7 linked regions of the Homo sapiens genome follow. The protein of the gene in region 1 purifies or fractionates together with the protein of each later gene. This does not show direct contact. Each region holds a gene or a part of one and is shown in the gene's direction. Other genes may lie near its edges. The genes, in order: SF3A3, SNW1, U2SURP, SNRNP70, ACTR1A, CHERP and SNRPA.

Evidence for each region.
Region 2: the proteins of SF3A3 (region 1) and SNW1 purify together in Homo sapiens (affinity purification with mass spectrometry; 2 studies listed by BioGRID and IntAct, with this or other methods). This does not show direct contact.
Region 3: the proteins of SF3A3 (region 1) and U2SURP purify together in Homo sapiens (affinity purification with mass spectrometry; 2 studies listed by BioGRID, with this or other methods). This does not show direct contact.
Region 4: the proteins of SF3A3 (region 1) and SNRNP70 fractionate together in Homo sapiens (co-fractionation; 3 studies listed by BioGRID). This does not show direct contact.
Region 5: the proteins of SF3A3 (region 1) and ACTR1A fractionate together in Homo sapiens (co-fractionation; one large-scale study listed by BioGRID). This does not show direct contact.
Region 6: the proteins of SF3A3 (region 1) and CHERP purify together in Homo sapiens (affinity purification with mass spectrometry; 2 studies listed by BioGRID, with this or other methods). This does not show direct contact.
Region 7: the proteins of SF3A3 (region 1) and SNRPA fractionate together in Homo sapiens (co-fractionation; 4 studies listed by BioGRID and IntAct, with this or other methods). This does not show direct contact.

What each region holds. Positions count from the first base shown.
Region 1 is NC_000001.11:37,983,523-37,987,022, reverse strand, and holds part of SF3A3 (splicing factor 3A subunit 3), read left to right. Parts: intron 1-2,243; coding exon 2,244-2,316; intron 2,317-2,762; coding exon 2,763-2,854; intron 2,855-3,500. UniProt on the Homo sapiens protein: Component of the 17S U2 SnRNP complex of the spliceosome, a large ribonucleoprotein complex that removes introns from transcribed pre-mRNAs.
Region 2 is NC_000014.9:77,740,657-77,744,156, reverse strand, and holds part of SNW1 (SNW domain-containing protein 1), read left to right. Parts: intron 1-3,500. UniProt on the Homo sapiens protein: Involved in pre-mRNA splicing as component of the spliceosome. As a component of the minor spliceosome, involved in the splicing of U12-type introns in pre-mRNAs.
Region 3 is NC_000003.12:143,036,070-143,039,569, forward strand, and holds part of U2SURP (U2 snRNP-associated SURP motif-containing protein), read left to right. Parts: coding exon 1-35; intron 36-1,109; coding exon 1,110-1,266; intron 1,267-2,038; coding exon 2,039-2,134; intron 2,135-2,824; coding exon 2,825-2,891; intron 2,892-3,500.
Region 4 is NC_000019.10:49,084,095-49,088,250, forward strand, and holds the start of SNRNP70 (U1 small nuclear ribonucleoprotein 70 kDa), read left to right. Parts: upstream 1-1,356; 5' UTR 1,357-1,542; intron 1,543-2,310; 5' UTR 2,311-2,320; coding exon 2,321-2,467; intron 2,468-4,156. UniProt on the Homo sapiens protein: Component of the spliceosomal U1 snRNP, which is essential for recognition of the pre-mRNA 5' splice-site and the subsequent assembly of the spliceosome. SNRNP70 binds to the loop I region of U1-snRNA.
Region 5 is NC_000010.11:102,496,213-102,499,712, reverse strand, and holds part of ACTR1A (alpha-centractin), read left to right. Parts: intron 1-3,500. UniProt on the Homo sapiens protein: Part of the ACTR1A/ACTB filament around which the dynactin complex is built. The dynactin multiprotein complex activates the molecular motor dynein for ultra-processive transport along microtubules.
Region 6 is NC_000019.10:16,525,438-16,528,937, reverse strand, and holds part of CHERP (calcium homeostasis endoplasmic reticulum protein), read left to right. Parts: intron 1-682; coding exon 683-858; intron 859-3,260; coding exon 3,261-3,500. UniProt on the Homo sapiens protein: Involved in calcium homeostasis, growth and proliferation.
Region 7 is NC_000019.10:40,763,546-40,765,889, forward strand, and holds the end of SNRPA (U1 small nuclear ribonucleoprotein A), read left to right. Parts: intron 1-41; coding exon 42-130; intron 131-1,462; coding exon 1,463-1,622; 3' UTR 1,623-1,844; downstream 1,845-2,344. UniProt on the Homo sapiens protein: Component of the spliceosomal U1 snRNP, which is essential for recognition of the pre-mRNA 5' splice-site and the subsequent assembly of the spliceosome. U1 snRNP is the first snRNP to interact with pre-mRNA.

The sequences.
Region 1 (3,500 bases):
CCCAGCAATTTGGTCCACTCTGAGACTCCTCTGATGAATAATCTTTGCTCCATGGCTCCCCGTTGGGTTGGTCAAGATTTTGTCCAATCTGCATTGTGGTCTAGGCTATCCTGTCCTAATCCTACTTTCTCTTCCTTTTTATCTTTCACAGAAATTACTCTCCCCAATAAATTGTGTTCCTAACTCTGTCTTTTTTTTTTTTTTTTTTTTTGAGATGGAGTCTCGCTCTGTTGCCCAGGCTGGAGTGCAGTGGCATGATCTCGGCTCACTGCAAGCTCCACCTCCCGAGTTCATGCCATTCTCCTTCCTCAGCCTCCTGAGTAGCTGGGACTACAGGTGCCTGCCACCACGCCTGGCTAATTTTATGTATTTTTTAGTTGAGACAGGGTTTCACCATGTTAGCCAGGATAGTCTCTATCTCCTGACCTTGTGATCCGCCCACCTCGGCCTCCCAAAGTGCTGGGATTACAGGCATGAGCCACCGCGCCCGGCCCTCATATGCCCTGGAGCTCACTTATAATAAGGTAAAGAGAAAAAGGGCCTGGGAAGGCTTCCATCAGAAAGGTCACATGACCACTCCAGGTGGTGTTGCCTTACTGAAGTTAAGCAAAAGAGAGTTTCAGAAAGGCAGTCATGGTGTCAACTGTTATTGATTTATATCTGCCAGGATTGCTGCTTCATTAAAGTAGTATGAATGGAAATCTGGTCACAAGGTAAAGATGGGTAATGGGGAAGTAGAAGTATGGAGTATGGAACATGCATTTGAAAGGCTGGTAGCCAGGTGCAGTGACTCACGCCTGTAATCCCAGCACTTTGGGAGGCCGAGGCGGGTCGATCATCTGAGGTCAGGAGTTGGAGACCAGCCTGGCCAAAATGGTGAAACCTCTCTCTACTAAAAACACAAAAATTAGCCGGGCATGGTGGTGCACGCCTGTGATCCCAGCTTCTCATGAGGCTGAGACAGGAGAATCGCTTGAACCCAGGACATGGAGGTTGCAGTGAGCTGAGATCACGCCACTGCACTCCAGCCTGGGCAACAGAGCAAGACTCCGTCAAAAAAAAAAAAAAAAAAAGTCTGGTAGGAAAAAGAAGGGGAGAAACAGGAGGGTATTGGGGAAGACAGAGAAGCATACTTATTTGAAGGAGCACAGGGAAAAAGGAAGAGACTAAAAACAGCAAAAAATAGAGGCTGTTTATTGCAATACATAGCGCGGAGGTAAATGAAGGGACCCTCACACACATAGCCCCCTTGGAGGATAGAGAATGAGGTCTTCTGCTAACCAAGGGAGAATAAATGAATACCATTCTGATGTGTTAACCTTATTCCAGCCATGGTCAAAAGGTAATGAGGAATAAATGCTTAAATAACTGATTAGAAGGATGCCCAAGATATACTAAATGTCAGACGCAAGTCTTTTATGTTAAAAAAACAAAAACAAAAACCTATGCAGGCATGAATGTACTTGTACAAATACATATATTTAAATACATAGAGCACTGTTTTCCAAACTTTGTGCATATTTGAGCCACCTGGGGATCTTTAAAAAGTACTGATACCTGCCCTCCTTTGATTTAATTGGTATCAGGTGCATCAGGATTTAAAAAAAAAACTCCCCCAGGTGATTCTAATGTGCAGCAAAGTTTGGGAACCACTGGCATAGCAAAAGCTCTGTTAACAGTGGTCACCTGTTCTCAGGAGAATTAATAAAGGTGGACTTTTGAGTTTTTGTGAGCATGTGTTACTTTAGTGGGTTTTACTCAAACAGTACAAAAAAGCGGGGAAAAACAAGGTAATTGGAGAACAGTAGTAGATTTCCTAGTGAAAAATCAAGGCCAAATAAATCATCAGAAGTCCAACTTTCTGTGTATTTCATTTCTGTGATCTTGCAACTTTTACATTGAAAAATCCGCCTGCGGTCAGGCACAGTGGCTCATGCCTGTAATCCCAGCACTTTGGGAGGCCAAGGTGGGCAGATCACTTGAGCTTAGGAGTTTGAGACCAGCCTGGGCAACATGGCAAAACCCTGTCTCTACTAAAAATACAAGAATTAGCCAAGCGTGGTGGTGTGTGCCTATAATCCCAGCTACTCGGGTGGCCGAGGCAGGACAATCGCTTGAACCCGGGAGGTAGAGGTTGCAGTGAGCCAAGATTGTGCCAGTGCACTCCAGCCTGGGCCACAGAGTGAGAATCCATCTCAAAAGCAAAAAGAAAAATCCACCTGAGCTTTTACTTTTCCCCTCAGATCTGTGTGCCAATGTCAGTGGAATTTGAGGAACTCCTGAAGGCTCGAGAGAATCCAAGTGAAGAGGCACAAAGTAAGTAGGGGTGAAAATTTCATTCAGCACCAGCAAAAATACAGGTTAATGACAGCTCAGATTTGCAGCCATGGCCTCAGAGATATTTATAGCCAGGATTTCTTGCTGGTTTTGTCTTTGCTGGTTTCTGGGCTAGAGTGACATCCTAAGTTGGTCTTGGGCAAAATGTTCATTTTGTTCTCTCCTACCTCAAATTTACTGGCTTGGAAAGCCAAGGATTGTTCACTTTAGTTCACAATACTAAAATGAGTCAGTCCTTGTTACCTTGTAAGAGAAAACTCACTTTTGATCTCACTTAACTTATTGGAGGTTATATTGTGAGCAAAGGGAAGACATTTGGGTGAAGTGCTGCCTCAGGAAACTAGGAACACACAGTCCATTTGAAAAGGTAAGTCCAAGAGAGTGGTCTGTAGAAACTGAATCATTGATGTATCTGATTCCCTCAGACTTGGTGGAGTTCACAGATGAAGAGGGATATGGTCGTTATCTCGATCTCCATGACTGTTACCTCAAGTACATTAACCTGAAGGCATCTGAGGTAAGGCCTGGGAAAGGGCAGAGAGGTTCTGATTCTCGAAGTGAGTCAGGACAGTAGGCTGGAACTAGCAGACATGAAGCCATTGTAAAGTGTCTTCCTTGTGTTTTAAAACTCTTATGTAAATATTAAAGAGGTGATATGCTCTCTTGGAATGAAATACTATTCAAAATGAAAGTTTTCTACAGTGAAAACAAGAAGCATATTTATTTATTAATACTTTTTTTTTTATTTTGAGATGAGGTCTTACCATGTTGCCCAGTCTGGAGTGCAGTGGTATGATCTTTGCTCACTGCAACCTCGACTTCTGGGCTCAAGTGATCTCCTGCCTTAGCCTTCTGAGTATTTGAGGCTACAGGTGCATACCACCACCACACTTGGCTAATTTTTGTCTTTTTTTGTAAAGATGGGGTCTTGCAGTGTTGCCCAGGCTGGTCACAAACTCCTGACCTCAAATGATCCTCCTGTCTCGGCCTCCCACAGTGTTGGGATACAGGCATGAGCCATTGTACCCAGTCCATTATCAATACAGCAAGCATATTTTACCTTTGCCAAAATAAATCTTTTTTTTTTTTTTTTTTTTTTGAGACAGGGTCTCACTTTGTCACCCAGGCTGGAGTGCAGTGGCGCGATCTTGGCTCACTGTAGC
Region 2 (3,500 bases), on another chromosome or scaffold:
TTTTTCTTTTTTTTTTTTTTTGAGATGGAGTCTCACTCTGTCACCCAGGCTGAAATGCAGTGGCACGATCTTGGCTCACTGCAACCTCCCAAAGTGATGGGATTACAGGCATGAGCGACTACACCCGGCCAGATCGTTGCTTTTGTCTGTAATGCAGCCACTAGAAACAAACCCCAAACTGGGACCACTCTCAGGTTTATATCTTTTTGTTTGTTTGTTTTCTAGAAGTGGATAGATTCATGCATGAAGTTTGGAATGCATTGAGTAATTCAACATTAATCAAGTAACTATTATGTGCCATTGGCACTGGGGGAGCACTTTGATTGTTTAGGACCATCTTCAGCATTGTACAATGTTTAGCATAAGTGGCACTACCTATAAATCCCAGTAGCGTCCCCATCCTACCCCCATTGTCTTAACTAGAAACACCTCACACATTTACAAAGGCACTGGGAGAGAGGAGTTAGAGGTGGCAGTGATGCCCTGTTTGACAATCACTGATTTTCCTGTTTTAGAAGAAATAGAAATGGACTGCATAATATATAAAATAGGATTTAAAAAATTTGTTATTCCAGAGACTGAACAGGTTATTGGATTTATGAATTTGGACTAAGATTTCTGATTTGCTTCCGAGAGGTCTGGTATTCTTCAGAAACGAGGGAGTTCTCACTGAAATATTAATAGTGAATGAGTAAGAATGGAAAATACTAGGTGTTAGGTATAAGAGGTGAGAAGAATCAGTGAGGATTCTAAGACGTAATATTCTAGGACAAGTCTAAGGCAATTCTCTACATGTGAAGTAAGTACTGTGTATACGACTTATTAGTCATACAAAATTGGGGATGAAAAAGTTTTTTTTAGTGTAAATCTTGATACAACCAAATGCTTTTTTTTTCCTAATTATGAAAGTGATAAATCTTTTTTTTTTTTTGAAACGGAGTTTTGCTCTTGTTGCCCAGGCTGGGGTGCAATGGCACGATCTCAGCTCACCGCAACCTCTGCCTCCCGGGTTCAAGTGATTCTCCTGCCTCAGCCTCCTGAGTAGCTGGGATTACAGGCATGTGCCACCACGCCTGACTAATTTTGTATTTTTGGTAGAGACAGTGTTTCTCCGTGTTGGTCAGGCTAGTCTCCAACTCCCAACCTCAGGTGATCCACCCACCTCGGCCTCCTAAAGTGCTGGGATTACAGGCATGAGCCACCACACCCAGCCAAGTGATAAATCTTGAAATAAAGGGCTTGGTGTATGTATTTTTCCCTCTGAAATAGTTATGTAAGAAATACTACATACAGGCCAAGTGCATTGGCTCATGCCTGTAATCCCAGCACTTTGGGAAGGTTGAGGTGGGAGGATCATTTGAGGCCAGGAGTTTGAGACTAGCCTGGGCAATATAATGAAACCCTATCTCTTAAAGAAACGAAATGTTACACACGTACTATACCCAAAAGAATGCCTTCAACGTATTACCCCTAAAAAACCGTAACAACTTTAAACTGACCCCATGATAAATTATATGTTATCTTGTTTGTATGATTTCACACACTAGCTAAGCTAGATTAGCGTTTTCTTTCTACCTCACATAGTGAATGTTTTGACAGGCTTATCCTTTTAGTCAGTCTAGTTCTTTGCCAGTTTTCTGTAATAAAATATCTGTTTCACAGATGAGTTACTACTTTATCTTGTTGACAAAGCTTATTTGTGCTTCTGATACTTTCAAGAGTATATTGTATTTTTCAGAAAACGCTCCCCAGCCCATTTGCCTCCTGGTACTCAGTTTCCTCAGCACATTTAATTCTCAGACTATAAAAATTTGGGGTTTTGGCCAGGTGCTGTGGCTCACGCCTGTAATCCCAGCACTTTGGGAGGCCGAGGCGGGTGGATCGCCTGAGGTCAGGAGATCGAGACCAGCCTGGCCAACATGGTGAAACCCCATCTCTAATAAAAATACAAAAATTAGCTGGACGTGGTGTCATGCGCCTGTAATCCCAGCAACTTGGGAGGGAGGCTGAGGCAGGAGAATGGTTTTAACCCGGGAGGCGGAGGTTGCTATGAGCTGAGATCACGCCATTGCACTCCAGCTTGGGCAACAAGAGCAAGACTTCGTCTCAAAAAAAAAAAAATGGGGGGTTTTATAATTAATTACTATGGAGGAATCTTGCTCTTCAGATGTCCTTCACTCAGCCTTGTGAGATACTAGAATCTTATTGATGCTCATTTGAAGGGTTATTAACTTTGGAATGCCCAAATAAGGAGCAGCAAATGACTCTTGTATGCTAAATTAGTATTGACACTTTATGTTGAACATACATGACTACCAGGGAGCCATTTACTTAGAATCCTTTCCTTATAACCGTTGCTATGGAGAAGTGATAAACTCCTCATGATTAACTCTTCATAGAATTGGTATTTTTTTCTTGTGTTGTTATATAATTTTCAGCTTAGGGTTGTATAGGTTTTTCCATGCTGAGAGGAAATAAGACTTTTGAGGTCAGATAGTAGCTGTATGATCTTAATGTACTGAACCTCACTCTTTTCAGTAGAGTGAGCTTTATGGTCCCTTCCAAAATCAACACTCTTAGAGTATGGTGACACTAATAACTCACATATCAGTAGTACGTGTTTTGTGCTAAATCATCTTAGGCTTTCTTACCTGATCCCTCTTCTCACTCCTGAGAAAAACAAGCTGGAGATTTTAGTGTATAGCCATGAGATAGTTTTTTCTGGGAAATCAGTAGCTTATAGAAAGTTCTGTACGGCCTAAAATATAAACTTATTTATTTATTCATTCATCCATCCATTCTTTAAAATAGAGATAGGTCTTGCCATGTTGCCCTGGCTGGTCTCGAATTCCTGGGCTCAAGCTATCCTCCAACCTTGGCCTTCCAAAATGCTGTGATTACAGGCGTGAGTCACTGTTCATGGCCTATAAACACCTTTAGCATGTAACAGAATATCTCTAAAATTCATTTATTTATTCATTTGTACAAAAAATATTGATCAAATATCTCCAGTCATTATTATAAAGCACAGGAGACACTTTTTTTTTTTTTTTTTTTTTTGGAGACAGTTTCACTCTTGTTGCTCAGGCTGGAGTGCAATGGCATGATCTCGGCTCACTGTCACCTCCGTCTCCTGGGTTCAAGCGATTCTCCTGCCTCAGCGTCTCATGTAGCTGAGATTACAGGCACCCACCACCATGCCTGGTTAATTTTTCTGTTTTTGGGAGAGACGGGGTTTCACCATGTTGGTCAGGCTGGTCTTGAAATCCTGACCTCAGGTGATCCACCCACCTCGGCCTCCCAAAGTGCTGGGATTACAGGCGTGAGCCACCGTGCCCTCCCCGTTTTTATTGTTTTAATACGGGAGACAGATAATAACCATGTAAAGTAGATAATTTCATGCTGTGAACAGTCTTGATCACAGTAAACAGTGCTATGGAGCAAATGATTGGGTGGGGAGGGGTTACTACTAAGGCAATCAGAAGAAGCCTCGATAATGG
Region 3 (3,500 bases), on another chromosome or scaffold:
GACTTGTAAATATTATTGAAGAAAAGGAAACAGAGGTAGGCAGTCTGTATTTGTCTGGTTGTTTTTAAAATTCGTTTCTGGGGTGGAGGTTTCTTGGAGTTGTTCTGTGTTACATATGTGAGGTACATTTCTTTGTGAAAAATATCTATTGCTTACCATTAAGTAGTGGATTTTTATTGCTGGAACCCAGAAGTCAAAATTACATGTAACAGGAATTCTCTGTCTTGTGTCCTTATGTGAAAATTGGTGAGTGTTTTTTTTATTTAATGATATAAGAGTTATGATATATTGTTAATAGTAGAAAATAAGCAAGTAATAGAGCAATATGTATAGCATGACTTTATTTTGTTAAAGATAGCTATATAAGTAAAATATGTGCATGAAAAGATGCATCACATGATAGCAGATATACATCACCATTCTGTTGTTTTTTTTCTTTTTTACCTCCTAAATAATTACTGAATCCTTAATGTTTAATTCTGCCATGCTAGTCAAGCTATTATGTTTTCACTTTCACTCCTGCAGGATCTTCCTAATTGGCCTTACTGTTGCAACCCACGTGGTCCTTGTTTCAGTTTCTTAAATGTGTGTTTCCACCTACCATTGGACTTTGTACATGTCCTTCCCTCTTTCTGGGACTTATCTTCACCTGAGATCCTTCAGATCTCAGCTCAAACATAACCTTAGCCTTCTCTGACCTCTTTAAGTGAAACTTAGTATGCTAATAGTATGATACGCCCTTTTGCTGTAGCAGTTACCATAGTTACAGATAAGTATATATTGTTGTGATGATCTGATTTCCTGGTTCCCCCACCCCTGCAAAACAACAGCAAAAACCTTTACCAGGCTCTATAACAGGGGGACCAAACTTGTTTTTGCTCATCATTGCCTCACAAGGTACCTGGCACCAGTGAGCACTTGGTAAATATTAGATAAATGCACAACTGACTGCTTCTTTAGCAAACTGGATGATAGAATATGTTCTTACATTGTACCTCAGATTGTGGGTATCCAGTTATGTTGGCTTGTACTGGATTACAAATTAATCTTACAAGCAATGTGACTTCAGCAAGCAAAGGAAAATGTTATAATAGTACACATTTCCATAGGATGTTCCAGATGACCTTGATGGTGCCCCCATCGAGGAAGAGCTTGATGGTGCACCTCTGGAAGATGTAGATGGAATTCCTATTGATGCTACTCCCATCGATGATCTTGATGGAGTCCCTATAAAAAGTCTTGATGATGATCTTGATGGAGTGCCTTGTAAGTTCAGATTTCAAACTGATTAAATCTAGCTAATACATTTGGTGACCAAAACTCTAATTTCCATACATGCTGATATGGAAAAAGGTTATAGTTTCTCATGAACGTATCAAGTTATTAACTTTTCTATTTCTGATTTTTTTCAAAATTCATATACCCAGTAATACATTTATTTGTATGCTATGTATATAAAAGGCCAAGAAGAAGCATTTTTTTCTGGTCACATTTCTTTGCTGGGACAATCAGCCTCCTATAATATTAGCAAGTTTCTCTTTTTGTCTTGTCAGGAAATTATAGGCAAAATCTTGTGCTCAGTTATGCATGATCCTAGGTACCTGGTTTTATCAGTTTTTATTAGTTTTTCTAACTTACAACTTCAGTTTTCCTAGCTGCCTAAAATCATTTTGAAAATAGGAACTGTAGACAGCTCTTTGGTACATTTGAATTATATGTTTAAATATTGAATAATGTATGCAGTTTTATATTTCAGAGATTAGGTAAAGATATTAAAGATTTGTTTTACTTCTCAACTTCTTCACTTGCTTAATATATTACTAACCTGTATTTTCTGAATTGATATATATACTGTTAAAAATATTGCCCTCAGATGCAGAGAATTGGTTTAGTCATAGTCCTTGTTCTTAGTATTACTATTTGTCCATCTGTGTCCTTATTTTACTTTGCTTTTTAATAATATGGTGAATACCCATGAATGTAATACTTCGGGTCATCCACTAGTAGTCAGGGTTAATGGCTTATCTTTCCCTAATAGTGGATGCAACTGAAGACTCAAAAAAGAATGAGCCTATATTTAAAGTTGCCCCATCAAAATGGGAAGCTGTGGATGAATCTGAATTGGAAGCACAGGGTGAGTAAAAGTAAAATAAATATTTTTTAAATTAAGTACTTGTACGTTAATTATTGGTGTGCTTGTATATATGTTTTCCTTTTATGTTTTATAACACGTTTTAACCTTAATGCTCAATGTTGTCATATTTTGTGTCTAATGTATGCTTTTATTGTGGTTGGTGTTGCTGTTACAATTTTCTTAGGTCCTTCAGTTTGGAAGCTTTGAGAGTAATGAGATATCACTGAAAACCTTTCAGGTTAAGGCATTTTAGTAGCAAATGTAGATTGGAAGCTGTACCTACGTAGAAATCTACATAGAGGTCAGTTTCATAGAAACCAAGCTTTGACCCTCCCATAATGCTAGACTGATTAGATGCAATTTAGACCTGTCTTTCACACTTACTTAGACCTGTATCCTAGTGCTAATAATCTAATTGTTGCTATTTGTAGGTTCTAATGAAATAAATCTTAATATTCAACACAGAAATAAGGATGACATTATTCGTCACTTCATGAATTTGAATTATATTGTAGGTGTGAGGAAAGAGATTTGGCATATAGAAATAACTATTTAGAGAATTGATAAACATAGATTAAAAAAACTTCTGTAATATAAACTTTTCAATTCTAAAGCTTGAGCTTCCACTGTACTACTGAAAAAATGCTAGTTTACCTCGTGGAATTACATCCTCCTTTTCCTTTCATTCAGCTGTTACAACTTCTAAATGGGAATTATTTGACCAGCATGAAGAATCAGAAGAAGAAGAAAATCAAAAGTAAGAATCTAAGTTTTGAATATACTGTTTCTTGTTCATATACACTCCCCTTTTCATTAAGAGATATAGTTGAAATAATAGTGAAGTGGAAAACTTCACTCTTAAAAAATTTTGGGAGAGGATCATTTTTAGTTCTCCATTGGTTTTCCAGTGAATAAAGAGCTTTTGTTTTCTGGTCTTGATGGATCTGGTTTCATTTTGCTTTTGAGTTTTTTACGCTAGGTTATATTCTCACTTTGTAGTTACTAATTGGTCAACTGCATTTTTTTCAAACCTTTGCCATCAAATACTGTTTTGGGCTCCATAAAAAGTGGTTTTTAAAATGTGAATAGGAAAGGTTATACTCCTTTCTTTTGGATTGTACATTCTAAGAAAAAGATTGCATTATGGCCATTGTGTTATTTAAATATAAACCTTTCAGAAGAACTAAGAATGAATACAAAGGAAAAAATCTTTTCTTTTGAAATATAGAGAAATAATAATTTTGATTTTGCTGTTTGGTAATCACCCCAAAATTGTTTTTGTATTTGACACTGTGTGGTTGTAGGAATCTCTCCTCTCAGATTCTCCTGCAAGTCTGTATTGGCAGTTTTTAGGAAGTTCTTGACA
Region 4 (4,156 bases), on another chromosome or scaffold:
TTTCTCCATGTTGATCAGTCTGGTCTCGAACTATTGACCTCAGGTGATCTGCCCGCCTTGGCCTCCCAAAGTGCTGGGATTACAGGCGTGAGCACTGCACTCGGCCTTTTTCTTGAAACATAAAATTAGTCATTTTAATTTGCAATAATTTCTGTAGTTATTAAACAGGCTATTGAATCCATCCACAAAACTTAAGATACAATACTTAAGAACAGGGCTCTAAATAACAAGTGCCAGCTCTCTGATCTCATGGCCAACAACCTGAGATTCCTGCCATCTGGTCTCAGTTCAGGACCTTTGCACTTACTGTTAAACACCGCCCCCCCGGCCCCACCCCAGATCTCGCTTCTATCTGTCCTTTATTCAAATGTTACCTCTTCAGAGGGGCCTTCCATTATCACCCTTTCTAAAACAGCCTCGCTCTCACTTCCCATCCCTTTATTCTGCTCCATCGTTCTTCATTATGCTGGCCACTATCTCAAATTATCTTTTATTATTTATTTATTTATTTACTTTTGAGACGGAGTCGCTCTGTCGCCCAGGCTGGAGTGCAATGGCACGACCTCGGCTCACTGCAACCTCCGCCTCCCGAGTTCAAGCGATTCTCCCGCCTCAGCCTCCAGAGTAACCGGGCTTACAGGCGCGCACGGCCACGCCCGGCTAATTTTTGTATTTTTAGTAGAGACGGGCTTTCACCATGTTGGTCAGGTTGGTCTCACACTCCTGACCTCAGGTGATCTGCCCGCCTCAGCCTCCCAAAAGTTCTGGGATTACAGGCGTGATCCACCGCGCCTGGCCTCAAATTATCTTTATTCAGTTAAATGCTTTTATTGTCTCTCCCAGTACAATGTAAGCCCTAGCAGCAGAAGACTTTGCTTTAATCACGTGCTGTACCCCCAAAGCCCAGACAGTGCCTAGCACACACGAGATGCTCGATGAATAGTTATTGATTGAATAGATTAGACATCAACGCAATCAGGCTGTTCACCTAGGGACTCTTTGCTAGGCGGCGGAGAGGTACGTTACAGTTCTCTACGCAAAACGCATGCGCGAAAGATCCGGGAAGTGTGATCGGAAAGGGGCGGAGCATCAGGGAGAGTCTCGCGGACATAGGCGGTTCGGCGCGGAAAGCGGGAGGTGGAGGGGCGGCTTGGGGCAAGCGCGCGCGCGCAGTGCAGAAGCCAGCCCCCCGCGGCTGAGGTACTCAAGGTGCCCAAAGGCGGGGTAGTGACCTCGCGCGTGCGCTGTGCCCGCGGCAGCGCCGGGTCCTAGTGTGTGGGTTGTTGTTGGCACCGCACGGCGCGTGCGCAGTGAGGACGGCGGAGGGATTTGCGGCCGGGACCCACCCCCTGCTCCAGTCGCTATCGGAGGCCGCGCGGGTGGCTGAGCAGCGGCCTGGTGCGCTCGCTTAGCGGGCGACGGAATCAGACGGACGTGGACGCCCCCGGAGTGGAAGCCGAAGCAGGAGTTGTTGTTGCTGAGGGGCTGCCGCAGCCGCCGCGAGCCTCCGGACAGACGCCAGAGCGAGGAGGGCGCTACGCGGTGAGTGAGTGTGACTGAGTGGCCCGACGGGGTGCGGGGCCGCTACCCAGAAGCCCCAGCGGTGGGCCCGGTCCTCTTCCCCGCGGCCAGGCCCCTTTCCCGCGTCCCCGCCACAGGTCCCTTCTGCATCCCTTTCCCGGACCCCGAAATCTCTGGGCACCCACGCCCGCTTCCCACAGCGCCCTCGTGGTTCCCTACCCACAGGCCCTTGCGGTGTGTGGCCTTTTTTCTTTTTCGTTTGTCTATGTTGTCCTGGACCCTTACCCATAATTCCTTTCGCTTTTTGCGGGGTCCAGGTCTGTTACCCACAAGCACTTGGTTTTGGGGCTTCGCTCCTTATGTTTCTCTTTCTTTGCTTGGAAACTTCCGATCCCCAGGACCCTGCAAACTGCATCTCGTAATTTGCCCTCCACGGCACGGGACGAGCAGCCACAGCTGCTCTGGGCCTCCCTCCTCGGGTCCTTGATTTCCCCAGAAATTCCCAGGGAACCTCTCCGCCCCACAGCTCGTGTCAGAGGACTCTGAGACTTCACTCTTCAGGAACCCTTTTCCAGCCGTTATTTTTGTTTTCTTTACCGGCCTTTCACCTCCACCCCCACCAAGACGTACCCTTTTCTCCGCAACACAGGACTGTTCTCTGCCCTTACAGAGCCTGTTTTAATTCCGAGACTTTTCTCCTGTCTTTCTTATTTTGAGAGTCAAGGAGTAACAGGGGCTTTCTCTGTGCAGACCCGATCTAACCTAAGGCTGTCCTGCTTCTGCTCTCAGACTTGGCAAGATGACCCAGTTCCTGCCGCCCAACCTTCTGGCCCTCTTTGCCCCCCGTGACCCTATTCCATACCTGCCACCCCTGGAGAAACTGCCACATGAAAAACACCACAATCAACCTTATTGTGGCATTGCGCCGTACATTCGAGAGTTTGAGGTGAGTTCACTGAGCAGGCCAGGAATGGTTTGGGTTCTGGGGAGCAACGGGTTGGATTTGCGAGTCCAGCTTCTGGCCATTTTGCCAGCTGCGTGATTTAAGCGAGGGGCTTAACCTTTGTGATCCTCAGTTTCTCTGTTTTAAATGGGGTTGGAGCCGGGTGTCGGGTGTGGTCGAGTGCGTCTGTAGTCTCAGCTACTCAGGAGGCTGAGGTGGGAGGATTGCTTGAGCCCAGGAGTCGGAGGCTGGAGTGCTTTGTGATTGTGCCACTATACTCCGGCCTGGGTGACAGAGCAGGACTTCGTCTCTCAAAAAAAAAATTTTTTTTTTAAGTGGGGTTGTGGCCCGGTACGGTGGCTCACGCCTGTAATCCCAGTACTTTGGGAGACCGAGGCAGGCGGATCACTTGAGGTGAGGAGTTGAAGACCAGCCTGGCCAACATGGTGAAACCACGTCTCTGCTAAAAATAACAAAAATTAGCCGGACATGGTGCCTGTAATTCCAGCTACTTGGGAGGCTGAGGCACGGGAATCACTTGAACCCAGGAGGCGGAGGTTGCAATGAGCCGAGATCGCGCCACTGCACTCCATCCTGAGCAACAGAACAAGACTGTCTCAAAAAAAAAAAAAAAAAAAAAGTGGGGTTGATAGTACACCTTTTGTAGAATTTTTGTGAAAATTCAGTGAGTAGTGGTTGAGGATTCATGCCTAACCCACACCATTTATCAGCTCTGACTTTGGGCAAATGTTGTATCCTCTTAATGCATTGGTTTCTTTATCTTTAGCAAGGGGATAGTGGTAGCACCCTTATAATGTTGGTGGAGAATTAAATGGCAAACTGTATGTCAGGGGGCTTGGCACCAAGCAGTCAGCACATGTCAGCCTTTGTTACTCTGTTTACTACTTTTATTGTTAATAAGATGATGTTCATAAAGGCTTAGCACCCAGTATTGAGTATTGGAGGGCTTAAAACTGCAGATGGGGATCTTAGCTCTGCACCTTTGGGATAAATAGGAATGAATGACTTAGGCTCCTGGACCTCTGTGTTTTTATTTGTGAAATGGGATGACAAGGGTCATCTCTTAGGTGCATCAGAGCACACCTGAGAAAAGCTGGCACACAGTCGGAAGTTACAAGAAGAACGTTCTAGCATTGGGTAGGTAAGGGCAGCTGGAGGCGAGGGAGTTGCAGAGCAGAATTTCGTAGATAACAGAAAGGTATGTCTTCAGTGGGATTTGCCACCCTTGGTGAACCCGCACTTGAGAGATATTACTGGCCAATTAACTTAATGGGCACAGGCGGGTGGTAGGTGCCCTTTGATGATGCAGGTCATGTGCCAGTTACCATTTATTTATTTATGAGACAGTTTTGCTCTGTTGCCCAGGCTGGAGTGCAGTGGCGTGATTTTAGCCAACTGCAGCCTCCGGTTCAAGCAGTTCTCCTGCCTCAGCCTCTCAAGTAGCTGGGATTACAGGCATGCACCACCACGCCTGGCTAATTTTGTATTTTTAGTAGAGATGGGGTTTCACCATGTAGGCCAGGCTGGTTTCGAACCCCTAACCTCAGGTGATCCACCCCCCTTGGCCTCCCAGAGTGCTGGGATTACAGGTGTGAGCCACCATGCCTGGGAGCCAGGTACTTTTTTTTTTTTTTTTTTTTTGACTTGGAGTCTCGCTCTGTTGCCTAGGCT
Region 5 (3,500 bases), on another chromosome or scaffold:
ATATATAGAAATTCAATTTCCTGTTTTCATCAGCAATGCAGAAGGAACAACCTGTCTATCCCACCAGCTCCTTTGCTTCTTGAATTGCTAGGCAGGAGTTCCATCTCCGGCCATTTTCTTTAATATCACTTACACTAATGCGTCTTAATTTTTTTCTTTCTCTTTCCTGGTAGTATGTTTCGAAATGCATTACAGCAGTGATGCATTTTTAGTTTCAAGATTTAAAGAATTGACTTGTCTTTTTTTTCCCCCTCTGGGAAAACATGTCCTTTATTATGCCAGTATTTCTGCCAAAAGGTGAAGTAGGAGAAACTTAAGTCATTTTCCTATTAGTATTTGCTGAAAATCTGCCACATTTTTACATGTGCGGTCTCAGGTAGTCCTTGTTGTTTAACATTTGGGGGGTCATTTTGTTTTTATTATTTTCAAGATGGTAGATGTATAGGAAACATTATTTGAAATACCTGAGACAACTTATTACATATAATGAGAATAATGTATCACTAGCTATGTTAACTCCATAGCTTAACATGTTGCTACACTTTATTTATGGGCAGAAGAGTATAATCAAAAGAATGCAGGAGAAAGAAAGCAGGGAAAGAGCCCCATTAAGTTCACAGCCTTTCCCAATCATAAGACAATTGTGACCACGTCTTTCATCTTACTCTGGCATCAAGTCATTTCATCAGAATTTAATGAGGAAAATGGAGGGGCAGGTAGGTGTGTGCTTTAATGACAACAATAAAGTGATAGGTATTTTTTTAATCACCCAAGAAGCTTTATGATGATAGATATTTTTTAAAACCAAATATAAGTCATTTCTTCCCAAAGACATAGAGAATAGTGTAAGATAGGAGCAGCTCCTAGGCCACATTTTGAGGACTACACTTTGATCAGAATACTATGTTTATTCTGAAACTCAAATTTTTCCTAAGATCCAGGCCAAATGTGGTGGCTTACTCCTGTAATTCCAGCATTTTGGAAAGCCAAGGCTGGAAGATCGTTTGAGCCCAGGAATTGGAGACCAGCCTGGGCAACATAGTGAGACTTCATCTCTACTTTAAAAAAAAAAAAAAATTAGCCAGGCTTGCTTGGTGGCATGCACCTGTAGGAGGCTGAGATGGGAGAATCACTTGAGCCCAGGAGTTTGAGGCTGCAGTGAGATCGTGCACCTCACTCCAGCCTATTTAAAAACAAAAACAAAAAAACTCTAAGTTTACAGTTTTGCCTGAACCTAAAATGGATCAACATTCCTGTCAAACTTAAAACTGTCTTTGTGACTATATGGACCTAAATGCAGGCTCTTCAGAAGTTCAACAATAAGCTAAGCATTTGTTTGTTTTGCTTTGGATGTTGTGCTGCTTCAGCCCCCTTTAAAAAAAAAAAAAGAGAGAGAGAGATACTTTAAACACACAGAAAAATTCGGTGTGGTATATAACAAGCACCCAGGTAGCATGTGTCTACTACCCAGATTTAGTAAATATTGATGTTGCCATATTTGCTTCAGTATTTTTTTTGCTTTAGTGTTCCCATCCACCTTCATGTTTTAAGGAAATAAAACATTACAGATATAATTGAAGACTCTTTGTACCCCTCCACAACCCTATCTTTTTTTTTTTTTTGAGACAAGGTCTCACTCTGTTGCCCAGGTTGGGGCTCATTGGCACAATCAAAGCTCACTGCAGCCTCAGCTTGCCAAGCTTAAGCAATCCTCCCACCTCAGCCTCCCAAGTAGCTGGGACTACAGCCGTGTACCACCTGCTCAGCCTTTTTTTTTTTTTTTGTAGAAATGGGGTCTCCCTGTGTTCCCCAGGCTGATCTAGAACTCCTGGGCTGAAGCAGTCCTCCCACCTCAGCTTCCCAAAGTGCTGGTATTACAGGCATGAGCCACTGTGCCTGGCAACCCTATCCTTTCTCTCTGTTTTACAAATAATCCGCAAAACAACCATCATCATAAAATTGTCCTCCTTTTATACTCTGGAAGATAAGTCAGGAGAATTGTGTTGTTCAAGGCCAGCCTGGGCAATACAGCAAGACCCCCATCTCTTTAAAAAAAAAAATTGTGCTCCTTTCCACCTATGATTTTTTTTAATTTTTAATTATTATTTGTTTTTAAATTTTTTTTAGAGATGAGGTCTCACTCTATCACCCAGATTAGAGTGCAGTGCTGCAGTCGTAGCTCACTGCAGCCTCAAACTCCTGAGCTCGAGCAAACCTCCTGCCTCAGCCTCCCAAGTAGCTGGGAGTATAGGAGGAGCAAGCCACCATGCCTAGATCCATCCATGATTTTATGTGCATATGCATTTTAAGTTTGGCAGGGGAGTGTGCTGTTTGTGTTTTGAAAGTTTACTTAAGTGCTATCATCCTACTGTTATCTCTTTTTATTATAGCAATTTCAAACATACAAAGGAGAAGGAATAGTGTAAGGAACATCCATACGTTCACCTAGCTGTAACAGTTATCAAACTCTTGGCCAATCTTTTCAACTACATTCCTGCCCATTTCCCTCTCCCACATTCTTTTTTTTTTTTTTTTTTTTTTCCTGAGATGGAGTCTGCTGTGTGGCCCAGGCTGGAGTGCAGTGATGCTCACTGCAACCTCCACCTCCGTGGCTCAAGCGATTCTCCTGCTTCAGCCTCCCGAGTAGTTGGGACTACAGGCATGCACCACCATGCCCAGCTAATTTTTGTATTTTTAGTAGAGACGGGGTTTTGCCATGTTGGCCAGGCTGGTCTCGAACTTCTGGCCTCAAAGGATCCACCCGCCTCAGCCTCCCAATGTGCTAGGATTATAGGCGTGAGCCACCACGCCCAGCCCCACACTCATTTAAAAACATAATCAATATACTATTATCATGCCTAATCAAATCAACAAGAACCCCTTAATCTTATCAGTTATCTAGTCAATGTTCAGATTTCACTAATTGTCTAAAAAAATTTTTCTTTTACAATTTGTTATCAGCTTTTCTGATCCTACTAATGCTGATTCACTTAAGTTTTTAGGGACACTAGAATTAGCTGAGGAAATGAAGTCAATGTATTTATCTAACACTGTCACTTGCAGTGTGATATTCAGGCTGTTGGTTGTACAGCTTCAGCAAGAATCCATCCCTAGCTTGACAGAAAAGGTGAAGAAGAGGTGACTTATAAAGATATTTTCACTGTTCAATTATGTATATTTTGCAAGCCAAGGATGTGCTTCACACTGAGCTAAGTCCTCTGAGGGTAAAAAAGAAATCAGATACCATGTGGAAGAAGAAACGTCACCAATTAGTGGCTGCAAATGCCTAGAATAGGGATTTCAAATTCAATGCCTGCAGAGGCCAAGCAGGAATGGAAATATACTCAAAAGAGAAGAGAGAGAATAGCCTGAAAGGCACCTCTTCCAGGCTGGGAAATCTGAAAGGTGCATTGAATTGAGCATGCCTGACCAAAATGTTAACTGATTCTCCTTTCTATCCAATTGTCCCCATGCAGGAATACCGGCCTAGTGTTGCCAGA
Region 6 (3,500 bases), on another chromosome or scaffold:
TCTGTCGCCCAGGCTGGAGTGCAGTGGCGTGATCTCAGCTCACTGCAAGCTCCGCTTCCTGGGTTCACGCCATTCTCCTACCTCAGCCTCCTGAGTAGCTAGGACTACAGGCGCACGCAACCATGCCCAGCTACTTTTTTGTATTTTTAGTAGAGACGGGGTTTCACCGTGTTAGCCAGGATGGTCTCGATCTCCTGACCTTGGGATCCACCCACCTCAGCCTCCCAAAGTGCTGGGATTACAGGCGTGAGCCACCGCACCCGGCCTAGCAAAGGATTTTAAAATTACATTCTGATCAAAGAAGATTTGTTGTAGGAATATGAGGATTGTATAGAATAGAAAATAACAGATGTGGGGAAATGACCTTTTAATTAGATACAGTAAAGATGTCTAATCAAATTCAGTGTGGATAGAAATTCTTCAGCAAACCAAGAAGGCAGAAGTGAGGCCTGTTTCTTGTAAAGCTTTGAAAAGGACAGATGTGTGTCATGTTCAAGGTCGAAACCTCCCCTCGCCCTGTCCCCTTCCTGGAAGCCAGTGATAGTCATGGTTTTAGTGGGTCCTGAAGCGATCATCCACTGGGCACTAAAAGCGGTAGCCTGGTTTGCTCTGGGGTAGTGTGGAGAGGAGACAGCGCCTCCTGCTGCCAGGCCTGCTCTAACTGCCTGTCACTTGGATTTAGATGACAGCAAGCCTCCCATCCAGATGCCTGGCTCTTCAGAGTACGAAGCTCCAGGAGGGGTCCAGGATCCTGCAGCTGCCGGCCCCCGGGGCCCCGGGCCACACGACCAGATCCCACCAAACAAGCCCCCTTGGTTTGACCAGCCTCACCCCGTGGCTCCTTGGGGCCAGCAGCAGGTATTGATTGGAACCTGGGGTGGGAGCAGATGGGGCACACTTGGCCTGATGGGGTAGCCTCCCCTATGCCAGTTGGTGGGCGTTGAGTGGCTTACTGGGGAACAATGAGGGATATTCTGTGGCAGAGCTTATGCTGGGTTAGTGACAGCCCTGTCTTCCTGTGGCTCCGGGACAGGTCAAGTGACAGGTCTTCACGTCCCTTCCCCGAGCTTTGATGGTTTGGGCTTCTCTGTAGTATAGATCACCATTGTCCTGCGAGTGCAGGGGAGTTTAACGCTGCAAGGCACGGCAGGGTGTTCTGTTTCCTGTCCTCCTTAAACAGGTTAAGCTAGTTGAGTGTCAGTGTTTTGTCATCCTGGAAAGAACAAGGTGCTTTTGTAAGGAAAGGGGGAATGTCAGAAATGTCAGCCGTGTTGCCCCTGGGAGGCCTCAGATGCAGCTTTGCTATGGGTCACATACCCCTGGGCCAAGGCAGGGGCCACCTTATGTGGCACAGCATGGCTGTGAAATGCCCTGCAGCGTGCTGGGTCCACTTTCAGCACTGAGGCACAGCCCCGGGTCTTCCAGGGCGTGACTTTCCCCCTTGCCCGTGGGGCCTGGTTGGCTTCGCAGCGTGGCCTTTCCAGGTGACTCCCTGTCTGCAGGGACAGGTGTAAGGATGGCAAGGAGACTGGCTCTGGACTGAGACTTGGTGGTTGTGGCTTTGAGCCTCCCATCCCCAGCTTCAGGACACGAAATTGAACCTCACAAAAGATTGGACACCCCCATAAAGACAGCTCCCACCTCCAAGTGCTGGCCAGGAGCCAGATGGTGGTGGCTGTTTTGCAGGTACCCTCTGCTGGGGGGGGCAGTTCTTGTCCCTGTTTTGTAGGTGTGGAAACAGGCCCTTAGTGTCTCCAGGCTCAGTCTTTTTGCAGACCAGAGGGTTGGGCTCAGGACAATGGGCACGCCCCTCACTGAGGGTGCCCGCTAGGCCAGCAGTGCATCCTGCAGTCCACACTGAGAAACAGCAGCCTGGCCTGCTTGACTTGGCCATGTGGGGTCTTAACACGTTTAAAAGTAATTTCTCAAGGCAGGAAGATTGCTTGAGGCCAGGAGTTTGGGACCAGCCTGGGCAACAAGGCAAGACTCCATCTCTACAAAGAATAAAAATAAGCTGGCATGGTGGTGCACACCTGTCGTCCCAGCTACACAGTGGTCTGAGGCAGGAAGATTGGTTCAGCCAGGACTTCAGGCTTCATTGAGCTATGGTCATGCCACTGCATTCCAGCCTGGGTGACAGAGTGAGACCTTGTCTCTAAAAAAGAAAAGCAAGGCTGGGCGTGGTGGCTAACGCCTGTAATCCCACACTTTGGGAGGCTGAGGTGGGCAGATCATTTGAGGTCAGGAGTTTGAGACCAGCCTGGCCAACGTGGTGAAACCTCGCCTCTACTAAAGATAAAAAAATAGCCGGGCATGGTGCCAGGCGCCTATAATCCCAGCTACTCGAGAAGCTGAGGCAGGAGAATCACCTGAACCCGGGAGGTGGAAGTTGCAGTGAGCCAAGATCGCGCCACTGCACTCCAGCCTGGGCAACAGAGCGAGACTGTCTCAAATTAAGAAAAAGAAAAACAAGTAGTTCCTGATATTTAATATCTGGCTCTCTGGCTTCTCTTGGAAGCCTGGTGAATGTGGCAGCCTGGGCCAGCCTCCCCTTAGTAGGGGTCAGCGCAGTTACCCAGCTGTGACCCTAGACACCGGCCTTCTCATTGGCCTCTGTGCTCCTCCCCTCCCCTGCCCAAGCTGGAGTTTGCCCTCCTGGCTTTAAGTCTCCAGAGCAGAAGCTGATGAGGGAAGAGCCTCCCGTCTTCAGTCTACAGGAAGATGCTGGCTTGGTTTGAAAGTCCCCAGAAGCAGACCCCAGGACAAGGATGTGTGTGCCGCAGTGTATCTGCCCAGCAGACGGCTTTTGGGGAGAGGGGGAGTGAGGCAGGGCAGGGGGTGTCAGAGTGAGCCCCGCCCCATGGGTGCCTGGGGTGCCCTGAGAAGCGATACCGTCTGTGCCTCTGCACCTGCCCCTGAGGGGCGAGGGAGCTGGCGTTTGTCTGGCAGTGGTAGCGGGGAGCACCTTGTGGCGCGGGCGGCCTGTGTGCGGGTGCAGCGCGCCCCAGCGGCAGAAACAGCCCCGGGACTGAGATGCGGGTGCAGCGGTTGGGTGTCTGGTCATTTTGCAGCAGCATGTGGTGCGGGCTGAGAGCAGGTGCCCAGCATCCTCGCAGGCGTCAGCGTAGGAGGCGCCTCAACGTGGCCAGGGCAGCGCCTCCATGGTCTGAGCCAGCGCTGTGATGCTGCCGAGCGCTGTGATGCTGCCGAGCACTAGGGCCTAGACCACGCAGGGCTCAAGCCTGTCCCTTCCCTTGCAGCCGCCAGAGCAGCCACCCTACCCGCACCACCAGGGCGGCCCACCCCACTGCCCCCCCTGGAACAACAGCCATGAGGGCATGTGGGGCGAGCAGCGCGGTGACCCCGGCTGGAACGGCCAGCGCGACGCGCCCTGGAACAACCAGCCCGACGCCGCCTGGAACAGCCAGTTCGAGGGCCCCTGGAACAGCCAGCACGAGCAGCCGCCCTGGGGCGGGGGCCAGCGCGAGCCACCCTTCCGC
Region 7 (2,344 bases), on another chromosome or scaffold:
TCAGGGCTCTTGTGCTCACCGACTCCCCTATACCCCCGCAGCTTTCTGAGAATCCACCGAATCACATCTTGTTCCTCACCAACCTGCCAGAGGAGACCAACGAGCTCATGCTGTCCATGCTTTTCAATCAGTAAGTGGGGCCTGTGGCTGGGTGGTCCCTGGAGGGTGATGGCCAGGAGGCATCTCCATGGAAACAGGCCTCAGAACTCTGCCAGCAGAGCTCTGAGCCAAGTAGGGCTTTGCAGAAGGGACAGCGACCAAAGATGTGAAAGGAGGAGGCTGTGGCTGGGCCCACGGCCTGTGGGGGACATGGGGGTGAGGCTGGAAAGGTCTCCATGGCCAGGGCTTGCCGGCTTTTTTCAGCCTTGTTTGAGGGCTGAGGGAGTCCAGGCTCTGGGCCTCATTTTCCCAGCCCCTAAAATGGGGGCATGCAAGGCAAGGTATGTGTAAAACTGCATTGAGATGTCCTTGAACATTGGCTAAGACTGGCAGAAGTCAGCGTGCTCAGAAACAGCAAGTGTGGGAGATGGGGATGCGTGAAACTCTTGTGCCTGGCGTCAGGGTGGAGGCCGGTGCAGCCGATGTGTAGAGGGGCTGTTCACCATTGTTGAGTGAAGTCGTGGGTGTGGGTGAGTTCATCTGGTGGTTCTGTTTCAGGGGCTGTGAGTGGGGCATTCGTCAGTGTTTGTGGTGGGGAGTTGGAGGGTGTCTGGGAGAAGGGATGGCTACATGCAGCATCTCACCATGCTGCACTGCGTGGCACTTAGAAGAACAGAAAGCGCAACTTTATAATAGTGCCGAGAGAAGATTGTGAGAACCTGAAAAATACAGAAAAACAATACCACATGTGCAGCCTGTCCACAAAGCTGTATATTTTGTGAGAATGCCGATGGAAAAAAGGATACCTAGTAAACATGAGGATGGCTGCTTAATGGAGAAAGAAGTATGGAATGAGAAGAGGGAAATTAGAGAAACAGCATATCAGAAAAGTGAGGGTAAGGCCGGGTGCGGTGGCTCACGCCTAAAATCCCAGTATGTTGGGAGGCTGAGGCAGGTGGATCACTTGAGGTCAGGAGTTCGAGGCCAATGTGGGCAACTTGGTGAAACCCCTTCTCTCCTAAAAATACAAGAATAAAAATGGAAAAAGTGAGGGTATTGGTTATTTTTTTGGTGTGGCGGGTGGGTTATGATTTAGGAAGGGCCCAGGAGACTGCGGTGTACTGTTTCTTGATTTAGGTTGCAGTTGCATGGGTGTTTGTGTTTAAATTTTTCATTAAATGCTATGTTTACATTAGAGTTTTTCAACTTAGTACTATCTGCATTTTGGGCTGGATAATTCTGAGTAATGGGGCCCTGCCCTGTGCATTGGAGGCTATTTGGCATCATTTCTGGCCTCTGTCCACTTGATGCCGTTACGTTAGGGGGAAATGCTGAGTCCCTGAGGTCTGTCGTTCTCTTTCAGGTTCCCTGGCTTCAAGGAGGTCCGTCTGGTACCCGGGCGGCATGACATCGCCTTCGTGGAGTTTGACAATGAGGTACAGGCAGGGGCAGCTCGCGATGCCCTGCAGGGCTTTAAGATCACGCAGAACAACGCCATGAAGATCTCCTTTGCCAAGAAGTAGCACCTTTTCCCCCCATGCCTGCCCCTTCCCCTGTTCTGGGGCCACCCCTTTCCCCCTTGGCTCAGCCCCCTGAAGGTAAGTCCCCCCTTGGGGGCCTTCTTGGAGCCGTGTGTGAGTGAGTGGTCGCCACACAGCATTGTACCCAGAGTCTGTCCCCAGACATTGCACCTGGCGCTGTTAGGCCGGAATTAAAGTGGCTTTTTGAGGTTTGGTTTTTCACAATCATTTGTCTGTCTGATTTTCTTGCTCTTCATGGTTCCTTTCCCTCCACCTCAGCAGCACATCCTGGGTTTTTGGACCTCTTGGCATTTTGAGGTTTGCAACCTTGGGGAAACATAGGATAGTGTAGTAATATTGTTCAAACTCAGGTTACAATGACTACTTTGGCAGTTTTGTATGTTGTCCCAATTCACAGCAGGAAATGGAATCCTGGGTCAGGAAATGGAAAGTCAGGGCTGCCGCGTACAGTTAGGCAGGATGGGTACTGCACAAGAATGGCACCTTTTAAGGGCACACCATTCACTTTGTAGGCTTACAAGTTTATGCCACCACTTTTCTAACAGATGACAAGAGTGTTCAGGGAGAGGTGTTTCTTCACCTTTTTTTTACTCTTCTCAAAAGTGCAGCCTGTTGTAGCAATGGCCCCAGAGAAACCACAGTAGGTAGTTCAAACAGAAAGGAATTTAATACAGGAAACTTGGTGCTGCTGAAATCATGGGGCG